Regions from separate parts of the Homo sapiens genome. Here region 1 is linked to region 2. The links come from fine-mapping of genetic effects on gene expression. A gene starts in region 2. The other region holds a variant in brackets. All regions are shown on one strand. Distances are from middle to middle.

Evidence for each region.
Region 1: its variant is fine-mapped to the expression of TMEM181 in thyroid (GTEx, PIP 0.97).

The regions. Positions count from the first base shown.
Region 1 is chr6:158,620,884-158,626,104 of GRCh38, forward strand. It overlaps TMEM181 (transmembrane protein 181), which reads left to right. Exons shown (of 17, transcript NM_001376852.1): 11 at 2,667-2,724; 12 at 4,221-4,323; 13 at 4,820-4,871. Among named protein-coding and RNA genes, the nearest start is that of MIR7161, 14 kb to the left of the region's middle. The variant C/T (reference allele first, on the strand shown) is at 3,096.
Region 2 is chr6:158,557,072-158,562,556 of GRCh38, forward strand. It overlaps TMEM181 (transmembrane protein 181), which reads left to right and starts at 3,020. Exons shown (of 17, transcript NM_001376852.1): 1 at 3,020-3,161. The coding sequence starts at 3,154. RefSeq lists a silencer at 2,711-3,630 and enhancers at 4,050-4,551, 4,552-5,051.

The DNA of each region.
Region 1 (5,221 bases), 64 kb after region 2:
GTTTATTTTGGACAATAAACCTGAGAGGGCCTTCTGGCCAAGTTAGGTCAGAGGCACTCTCTTACGGGCTAAGAGTATTTAAGCGTTCAGGGTGGGAGAGCTTATCACAGGCTCGAAATGTTTCTGTGTGTCTCTTTGTCTTGCTTATCTGGAAGGGAGAGTTTTGTGTCTGTTCCCCATACATCTTCCTGCAACTGCAGGCATAGCCCCCACGTCTGCTTTTAGCTTTCCTATCTTGGTGCACCTAAAGGGAAACGAATGTGCTTATTAGGACCCACTGTTCTACTGGGGCACATGGTATGAGTGTGAAGTTTGGTGCTTACCCAAGAGACTTTCCCCTCTCTGTCTGTGCCCAGCTGTGTTATCTGTGTTTTACTATCTGCTCTTTCTGGCTGCTGCTTGTTAGAATCTCGAGAAGTGATTTCCTTGAAATGCAGGAGGTTAGAAAGGGAGCTGGCACTGAAAGTGGCAGTGTTTGTCCAAGATGAAGGTGCTCCTGCTCTGTCAAGGAGGAGGAGTTACTTCTGCGGCAGGATGAGCCCCAGGATAACCTCGGCGAAGCAAGCCACACCATCCTCTTCCTGGGTTTTCAGGCGCTTGGGGCTACCAGCCCGTCCTGAACCCAACACAGAGCTCTGAGCTGGCCAGCTGAGGGGGCCACATCACCGGACTCCCGGAGGCAGCTGCGCTTGCTGGGACACCTTCCCACATTCTGCTCTGGTGGTACCTGACCTTGTGCCAATCCAGCACCATGGACCCCCTTCCCTCTTCCTCCCACTGCCCATCACAGTTCTCACAGTTTCAGAGATGCCAGCGTGCTTTGGAGAAGTCAGAATGATCCGATATTTACTAAAGGCTTTGGTTTGGCTTCCAAGCTCAGTGTGCTTCTGAGATCACCAAGCGCTTCTGTCTGCGCAGGCCACTTCACAGATGCCTAACTGCTTCAGGGGCTACAGAGCACTTTGATTACTTTGCAATACAAAGTCCAGAGCTGTCAAAGCGCTTCCGAAGACCACAAAGGGCTTTAAGGTCCACACATGGCTGCTGGACCCATGGGCTCCCGCAGCTCGCCCACCTGCCCTGGGCTGGAAGGGGCCCAAGCGCCCCTCAGAGCCAGCCGCACCCCTGAAGGCTGCCTCCGGACAGCCCACCTGGCTGCCGAGGCCCAGACACCCGCCCTGCCTGCCCCGTTGGGCCGCCCACACTGTTCTGCCCTGCCTGACCTCTGCCCAAGATGACACCACTCTGACCTCCCCAGCGCCTGCCCTCTGGTATGTTTTTCTCTATACATACATACCTATGATAAAGATTATTTGTTAGGCTAATAATAACCAATAAAATAGAAAAACTATAACAATATATTATAATAAAAGTTGTGTGACGTGCTCTCTCTTTTTCAAAATATCCTGTATTCTTATGATGATGATGTGAGATGCCCCAGTCCCTGTGTGTGGGATAAGTGAGGGGAATGGTGTAGGCATTGTGACATAGGGCTAGGCTGCTCCTGAGCTTCCTGTGATATGTCGGGAGGGTCACGCAGCCATGACAGTGTCGGTGGTTGTGTGTCAGGAGCAGATGATGTGGCCGACTGACGGGCGAGCCACGTTTGCAGCCGGGGTACACAGGACAAAGGGGTGGCACACATCCCTGGGGGGATGGTGCAGGATGTCATCGTGCTATCAGATTGGCATGCAATTTAAAACTTAGGGAATGCTTTTTTCTGGAATGTCCCATTTAACGTTTTCTGACTGCAGCTGATTTCAGTTAACTGAAACTGCAGAAAGTGAAACCATGGGTAAGTAGGGACAGCTGTATGACTTGAACTGACACATTCGTTTTTGCTTAAATGAGTTGTGGAGAATCCACAATTCTACTGGTCTATGATGAAAGATGAAAAAGACCATGTCCTTTTCAATTTCTCCTTTAGAGAGGGGAGACCTTGTTGTAGGAGTGAATCTTGGGTGGCTCCTGGCTTTCCACTGTCCACCGATGCTCTGCTGTGTCCACACACTTTCAAGCCCTATGCCCGCTCCCACGCTTGCTCTTTATGAGTGCTTTTGTCCTGTAAAATGGCCCCACAGCAGAAGCCTAGTGTGGTAGCAGCCTGGTTCACATGAATAGGACTTTCACGGAGTAGCTCCGTTTCCAGGTGTGACTTCGGAGCCCAGCATGCCTAGTTTCATGCCACAGTGACCCAAGTGAGTCACCCCGTCTGCTCCAGTCCCCTGTCCCCAATTCCCTGTCATCTCAGCCACCCATTTTCATTTTGAAAATCAATCTCATGGAAGTTTCTATTTGCTTTTATTGCTTTCTTTGTTTTCTTGTCTATTTCCTAGTACTCATACGTGCCATTAAAAAGGTGACTGGAAAAACAGCTCTTAAAACTGCAAGAGAAATAGTATATAGGGTTTTGTGTAATAAAAAATACTGCAACTTTCCAATACTGATAAATGTGGACCCTTGGTAGGATTGTATAGTTTTTTCATGTGAAATATGAAATTCAGGATTTCTCATAAATTTAGGATTGCTTTGTAAAAATCCTTCACTGTTGGTAGGAAGTAGTTTATATTAATAAGTAAAAAAAACAAAAAGTCAATAAGAAAAAATGTAAAATAAAAAGTAAAGGTAGTTATTAATCTATAATTATTTATAATGTCAATTTTTAGAGTTAACGAATTACATGATCCAATGTACCAGTATCGAGTTGATACCGGAAATTTTCAGGTAAGGATTGTTAATGAGGCCTGCAATTTTTCTTCTTAATGCTGTTTTGTAAAATTACTGAATTTTGTGACTTAAATTGTTCTGTTGAGCTTTTTGCTAACTGACTACTTGGGAAGGACTACATAGAAAGTTCAAGGGTGGAAGATTTGGGGAAATTTTTTTTTTTTTTTTGAGTTGGAGTCTTGCTCTGTCGCCCAGGCTGGAGTGCAGTGGTGCAATCTCAGCTTACTGCAGCCTCCGCCTCCTGGGTTCAAGTGGTTCTCCTGCGTCAGCCTTCTGAGTAACTGGGACGATAGGCGTGCGCCACCACACCTGGGTAATTTCTGTATTTTTAGTAGAGATGGGGGTTTCACCATATTGGCCAGACTGTT[C/T]TCAAACTCCTGATCTCAAGTGATCTACCCATCTCGGCCTCCCAAAGTGCTGGGATTACAGGCGTGAGCCACTGTACCCGGCAGAAAAGCTCTTTAAAACAATGTTTTTACTCCCAGTCTTTGGTTTGTGGCTGACGCAGTTTGAGGCCCTGTCACTGTGGTTCTGGTCGGCTGCTCTTCCTTCCCAGTCAGGTGTCGGGGAGAACCAGCCATGTGGGCTCTGGAACAGACCCCAGGGCCCACGTCTGTTGCTGAAGGAGACACCGGAGAGCAGAGCCTTCTCGGTGCTAAACACGCTGGTCTAGTCCAGTCCCTTTGCTTTACGTAAGGTCCCAGCTAAAGTCACTTAGGTGCTTTTGAGAAAAATGATCCCGATTCCTGCTGTGCTGTCCTGTGCTCTGAGCCTTGACTGTAAGAGGGGAGCTCTGGCGCTGAGAGGACAGGAAAGGGGTGGGGGGATGGCGTGGGCCGGAGCCATCGAGGAGCGGGGACTGCGTCTAAAGACACTGTCCACCCCGCGGCCTGGCCCTTGTCAGAACCCACGGGCCTGCCCTCCCCATCACAGCTCCATCTTCAGAAAAGGGCTTTGGCTTGCTGTGACATTACAGAATTGTGCACTTTTAGACCTTAGGTCCTGTAGGGCATTTAATTCAAGCCCCTCGTGTCACAGATAAGAAAACAGAGGTCGGGAATGGTTGATGGTTAAGACGGCGCGTGGATTCCCAGGGCCTAGCCTGGGTCCTTTCTTGGACACCTGCCACCTTCCCACATGCAGGGGCAGGGTGGGGAGCCAGCCCCTCGCCCCCAGGGGCGAGAGAGACAGATAGTGGCCACCGCAGTCTGAGCACCCACTGTGCCTGGACAGGTCCCTGGTGGGAGGGGTTTGGGCTCTGCTCCGCTGATTTGCAAGGCCTGGGGTGTCGTCCACCTCAGGGGAGCTGCCTGTGCTCGCAGCGGGACTGAGCAGATGGTCCCGGCTGGGAGCCCATTGTTCTGCTTCCTGGAGGGACCTTCAGGGTTGAAGTCCCTTCTAAAAACCTGTGGCTTTCCTGCCTGTGGTGGTGCTGGGAGGAGAAGGTCACAGAGGCCCTGTTCCGACTCAAGTGCTGCCTTGTGTCCTCCTAGGGAATGAAGGTCTTCTTCATGGTGGTGGCAGCGGTGTACATTCTGTACCTCTTGTTCTTGATAGTGCGGGCGTGTTCCGAGCTACGTCACATGCCTTATGTGGGTAAGTGCTCCTTTCAGAATCGGTGCAGGGGTGGCTTGGGAGTGACTCAGGTGGGGGAAGAAGTGGTTGGAGTCTCCCAAGCCAGGGGCCTTCCTTGAGGGCCCAGGGACTGGTCCATTCCCACAGGCTGGGGACCAGGGCACGTGGTCCCTGGGAGCCACAACAGGCCTTACAGGTTACTCTGGCATTTGGGACCATCAGAGTGGCCTGGGTCCTGCGGGACTGTACCCTGCAGAGCAGGGCGAGTCACCCTGAGCTTGCGGGATCCTTTCCTGAATCTGTCCCCACCAGAGGATGGTGGCTGTGGCCTCCCTGGACACCATCCTGGCCCTGGGAAGGGACCAACGTTCTCCTAGGCTGCTGGCGACTCCGGCTAAGTCTGGAGGGAGGAGCATTTGTCCAAAGAGCTTTGCTTAATTTTTGTTTTTTATTTTTCAAAATAAAATGCAAGTGGAATTTACTTCCAGAGTTGTTAATGAGTTTCTTTCTTTTTCAGATCTCAGGTTGAAATTTTTGACTGCATTGACTTTCGTAGTACTTGTCATTAGGTAAGAAGACCTTATTTCTTGAAAACAGCAAAACGGAATTTTTCTTTTACTGTCAGGAATATCTGTTGCCTCCTTTTGTGGAGTGGATTTCAGGGTACTTCTAGCCCAGTAGACTCATGAGGTTAGAGGGCCTCCCACCAAGGCTGGGCAGCCGAGAGCAGCCGTCAGCCTGGAGAGCATGTTTTTGTTGTAAGCGGCCGAGGACTGGAGCACGTTCACTTGCACACTCGGCCCGCGCTGGGCATGTTCTGTCCTTGCTGTGCCACCTGCTATGTGTGCAGCGTGCAGTCACCAGCTGGAAGTAAGGGCACTGGGGACCTCGGGATCCTTGGGGTGCCCCAGGGACAGGA
Region 2 (5,485 bases):
TGACAACTTTCACAGTAGCTTATCTCCAAAGGCGGTGCACCTCCTAGGATCCCAGCACTTTGGGAGGCTGAGGCAGGCAGACTGCTTGAGCCCAGGAGTTCAAGACCAGCCTGGACAACATAGTGAAACCTTGTCTCTACAAAAAATACAAAATTAGCTGGTTGTGTTAGTGCACACCTGTAGTCTCAGCTACATGGGAGACTGAGGCCGGAGGATCTTTTGAGTGGGAGGCAGAGGCTGCAGTGAGCCGAGATTGCGCCACTGCATTCTAGCCTGGGTGACAGGGAGACTCTGTCTCAAAAACAAACAGGTCATGTGAGAAATGGCTGATAGATCACACCAGGCTTCTTAGAGCCCAGAATAGTTTGGGTCCCTTTCCCCTTTTCATAACATGATCATAGCACCTTTCATTTCCTTTTCTATCACAGCTGTAATTATTTATTTATTTATTTATTTATTTATTTGAGACAGAGTCTTGCTCTGTTGCTCAGGCTGGAGTGCAGTGGCGTGATCTTGGCTCACTGCAAGCTCCACCCCCTGGGTTTAAGCAATTCTCCTGCTTCAGCCTCCCAAGTACCTGGGATTACAGGCACCCGCCATCACGCCCAGCTAATTTTTGTATTTTTAGTAGAGATGGATTTCGCCATATTGGCCAAGATGGTCTTGAACTCCTGAGCTCAGGTGATCCCCGCCTCACCTTCCCAAAGTGCTGGGATTATAGGCGTGAGCCACCATGCCCATGCCCGGTCAATTAAGTAATTATTTAGGTTATTGTTTGTTCTTGACTAGAAAAGGACAGGGACCTCATCTGTCTATTCGTGTTGTGTTTCCAGAGCTGAGAGTTGTTCCTGGCACACACACACTGCTCCATTAATGTTTGAAGAACAAATAAATGAGAAAACGAGTATGACGGGAGAAGAGGAGCTGAGGGCCATGTGGTTGTTCACATCCTTGAAGGAGTGTTGGGAGAGGGCTCATGCTGACCTGGGTGACGCTGGACAGCAAATCCAGGGAGATCTGACAGGAAGGAATTGCCAGGAGGTAGTTTGGAGTCAAATGCACACAGTGAGGGCCAGGGGTCCTCGGGGTGGTGACAGTTTCCTCTCGCTGGAGATGCCTCAGGAGAGACCAGGCAGCTGGCACAGAGCAGGGATTTCCACATCATCTCATGCTGCTCTGGGCTGGAGGTAGATACTGGCTGCCTCTAGGCAAATGTGGCCAGCAAATGTGCTTTGTTTAGTCCCTCCCAGGGTTTAAGATATTTTTTCGAATTAGTTTCCAACATTTTAGAATCAGAAGTGTCGAAAGACAAAATGACAGCAAATTTAAAGATCCTAAGTAGCTTTTCTTCATGATTCTAGAATCGGGCAGCCCTCAGAACCAACAGGTTCAAAGGACTTTGGGGCTGCAACGTGGTTAGACAACATTTATGGACAGAAAGTGGAACTGAGGCGCAGAGACAGCTTAACTGGTTACAGGTTTATGTTCTAGCTTATTTGAATCAGCTAACCACCTGCCAATGACAGAAGCTCACTGGCTGTGATTGGCTGAGACTCAGCTGTTTGTTACAAAAGCATCCTCCTCAATTAGGGTGTCTTCTCTTTTATGTTAACTATGCCAGGCTGCAGCTCCTTATGTAAGGACTCAAGTAGGGAGGCATCCTCAGGCCTAAACATTTAACAGAAGGTGTTGCATGAAAACGCATGTTTGGGCTGGTTGCGGTGGCTCACGTCTGTAATTTAACAGGCTCCGGGGTTGGGGACCCCTGCTCTAGCTCATAGAACTCCCTCCGACTCACCCCTTCCCGCGCCCCACGTCCCTGTGAACAGTCTGTCCCTGCAGGTACCCAGTTTCTGTTCTCCGGTCTTGTTGCTATGAAGAACCCTTTCCCTCTGCTTATGTATGAAAAGAACTTAAGAAATAATCTTTTGTTATTCCTTGAAGAGTTGCGGTTTAGGATTCAGAGCACTAATGAGATTTTGTGTAACTATTCCTTGGTGTCCTGGCTTAGGGTGTGCTTTGCTTGGTATCTCCCCCTTTTAACCCCCCTCTTCCTAATATCCACCTCACCCTCCAGATTCAGCCCAAACTCTGCATTCTGTCCCCTACCTTCTCCACTCCCCCAAGGCGAGTTAGGCACCCTTCCTCACTGTAGCACCCTGAGCTAAGGCTACCTAACTTACTGTTGGTAATTTTCTTTGCCTGTAATTTCACTGAGGGCAGGAACTGTTCCTTATTCATGTCCACACTTTTCTGCCAATAGTAAGCCTGTTTACAGTTTAGTGAATGAATGAGGATACATTGCAAAGGAAGCTTGGAAGTCCTTTATTTAACTCATGCAGACCGACTTTAAACCCACAGCACACGGGAACACGGGACATTTTGAGTAATGCTCCAAAGAGAATCTCAGAAATAGCCAAACCTTGGTTCTCATCCATTCTTGATTACAGAAATGGGGAACACTGAGCCAAGATGCGAAATCAGGAAAGTGCTTTTGGTCCACTGGTCTAGCTGCAGTCTAGAAGCGGCTTGCGGGAGAAGCTACCAGAAAGAGCCCGGAAGGTTCCTGTCATCATTCGGGGTGGCAGAAGTTTGTCCTGGCTTTTAACCTTTTTTGGGGTCACAAGACCCTTAGGGAATGAATATACAGCTATAGCTCCTCTCCCTAGAAAAATGCAGACACCCATAGTGTTTTCCAGACAACTGCAGGGCATTCGTGGACTCCCGAGGCCCATCCTTACGCCCCGACACTCGGGAAGTAGGAGTGAATGAATGCGCTGTTTACCTGCCCTAGGGACAAGAGGTAAACTAAGTCATTCATTCACTCATTCCTTCTGTCTTGAGCCCCAGCTCAGGGCTAGCCTGGGTGCTCCCGGCCGTGGGGCTCCGCCCCGGCACGGGGCCACGAAGGAGGGCCACCCCCCTCGCCGCGCGCCCGCGGCCCCGCTTCCACCGCGCCGCGCCCTCTTCCGCCGTGAGAGTCGCTTCCGCGCACGTGATCTCGGCGTCGCGCTCTGATGAGTTTTCCGCGGCCGGCCGCTGCTCAGCCGCTGTCGCTCCGGCTCCGGCTGCGGCTGCCGCTGCCGAGGCTGCTGCGCGGCGCCTGGCGGGCTCGGGACGCGCGGGCCGGGGCCGAGGGCTCTGGGCGCCGAGATGGAGCCGTGAGTCCCCGGCCGAGCGGGCGGGCTGGCTGGCTCTCCGGACACTCCGGCCGAAAGTTGGGGATCCCTGGCTCCCGGCGCCGTGCCGCAGGGTCCCTGGCGCCCACGTGGAACTGGGGGCAGGGAAAAGGGCGCTGAAGGGGGCTTCGCGGGCGGGTCAGGCGGAGGTGTTTGCGCGGGGCGAGAGTAGACCGGGGCCGGGGCTCCCTCCTGCCTGCCCGCCCGGCCGCGGTTAGAGACCGGGATGCGGTCGGGGTTCCGGGACGGGGCTGCGAGCCACAGCGCTCACCGGGGGGCCGAGAGAACCGGGGGCGCTGCGGCCCTTCCCCGGCGTAGGGTGGCCGCCCGCACGGAGTCCCGCCGCCTCCCGGGCAGCCTCTCCTGCCGGAAAGGCCCCGCCCCGTCGTCCCCTCGGTATCGAGAGCGCCCCGCGCTGCCCTGCGGTCTCGCCCAGCGCCGGGTGCGAGGCTCTCAGAGGCGATTGGTGACGTGGGCACCGGGGAGCCTGCCGCAACAGCCCCTTTGGACTCGGGGTGTCGAGTTATATGAGTTTTATGCGTTTTACGATCTGCTGACTTTGGGCTTTTTTTTTTTTCTTTACCTCTTTGAAGTCCAGGGTTTTTAATGAGGAAAAACCTGTTTGGGGTCTCGTGGACGCCATCCCTAAAGCTTGCTTTTGACCCAGCAGTCGCCTAGGTGTCCCCCTGGGCGCATCTGGAAAAGAAGGAGACGGAGTTAACCAGAGGGTTAGCGCCGCGTGGAGTTGCAGAAAGTCCGGGAGAAGGAGTGGCCCATATGTGCAGCCGCGCCTGGCGCAGGAGGCTTCCAGGGCCGGCTCCCTGCACTGAAGGCAGCCTCCGAGGGGCCTGGGCGCGCTTCTTGGCTTATATGCGGTTTTTGAGGCAGAAGGGTTTTGCTTTGGATCTTTGCTGATTTCTCTGGCTGTGGACGTGGTCAGAGAAGTGACACCCAGGCCTGTTGCCTCAGCGCAAGTGCCTGTGACAGAGAGATCTGTTTTTCCTTCTGCTTCCTTAGAAGTTTCTGACTTTGGTATGTTGCTTTAGCACCTCTTGGGAAACTGGAATGGCATCAAATATCAGACCTATGTGGATGTTTTAAAGATTTTAAAAGCCAAGTGGAGGTAGGTTAGCAGTATTGCCTCTGCACAACTCCAGAGGGCAAGATTCTTGTGCGGCCTATGTAAATAATACTGCTTGGAACGGTGTCTTGTGGAACTGTGGCCTTGTAGCAGAGTGACAGCTGCGTGTTACAGGAGTTCTCTCACGCGCTGCCCCTTGGAGCTGCATAGGTGGGCTGGGTGTGCTTTTTCAGTAGGAGAGAGGCCGGGGACGTGAGGTGGTGAGGGCCTTGGCCAGGACAGGGATCTGGGTCTTCTGCCAGGGTCCTGCGCTGTTACAGGACAGGGAACTAGACCAAAGAAAGCAGTTGACCAAGGAAAGGTCCCGAGGAGGACAAGCAAAACGCAGCTTGAATTTTGTGCGAGTTTGAGGCCTCCCCCTGCAGCTGTAAGCGCTTTGTGCCTCAGGCTCTGTGGAGCACTAAGAGGGTTAGGGAAGACGGAGGGGGATGAGGGTATCTGGAAATCAGCCCACCACCATCGGCCAGCATTCCAGGCACCTACCTGGAAACTGAGAAGAGTTTGGTAGCAGATAAAATCCTCCTAAAAAACAAGCCTGAAAATCCGAAGTGCGTCCTGGACTTAGGTGACTGAGTGTTCTCTGTCCTTGTCTGGTGTGCCTGAGAGCCCAGAGGTGAGAAAGGTGAGAAAGAAGAGAAGTCCAGGGAAAGAATGGGAGAGAACAGAGCCGCTTGGAGGAGCAGGGGCAGCTCCACCACTCTGCTTACGGTGTGTAGGGGACCGTCCCCCTGCAGACCCTGGCCTTATGACCTCTGACTCTCATTCGGCCCAGCCTGCTCTTTAAAAATGTAGGAGAGATTGCCATCAAAACTCATCAGCAAAAAAGGTTAGCAGTTCTTAACAGTTTTACCTTGAACTCTCCTGCAGTCTCCATTCCTTCTCTGATGATGCTAGGGACGGGAGAGGTGCTAGGAGTCTGAGGACGGTGTGGGGCGTCTCATTTGCTAACCTGACTTGTTTGAGCTACAGGGCTGCACGGAGTTGAGACTCTCATGCTCACATGTTGCTTTGGTCTTACTTTAGCATTTCTCTGCAAATTTAAATAAGGCTGTTTTTGTGTGTGTGTGTGTGTGTGTGTGTGTGTCTTGCTTGGCACGTGAAGCCATTTTTTAGTGTGTATTTTATGTGTCTTTTTCATCCTGGGGGCATTTCAATGTAGAAGTGT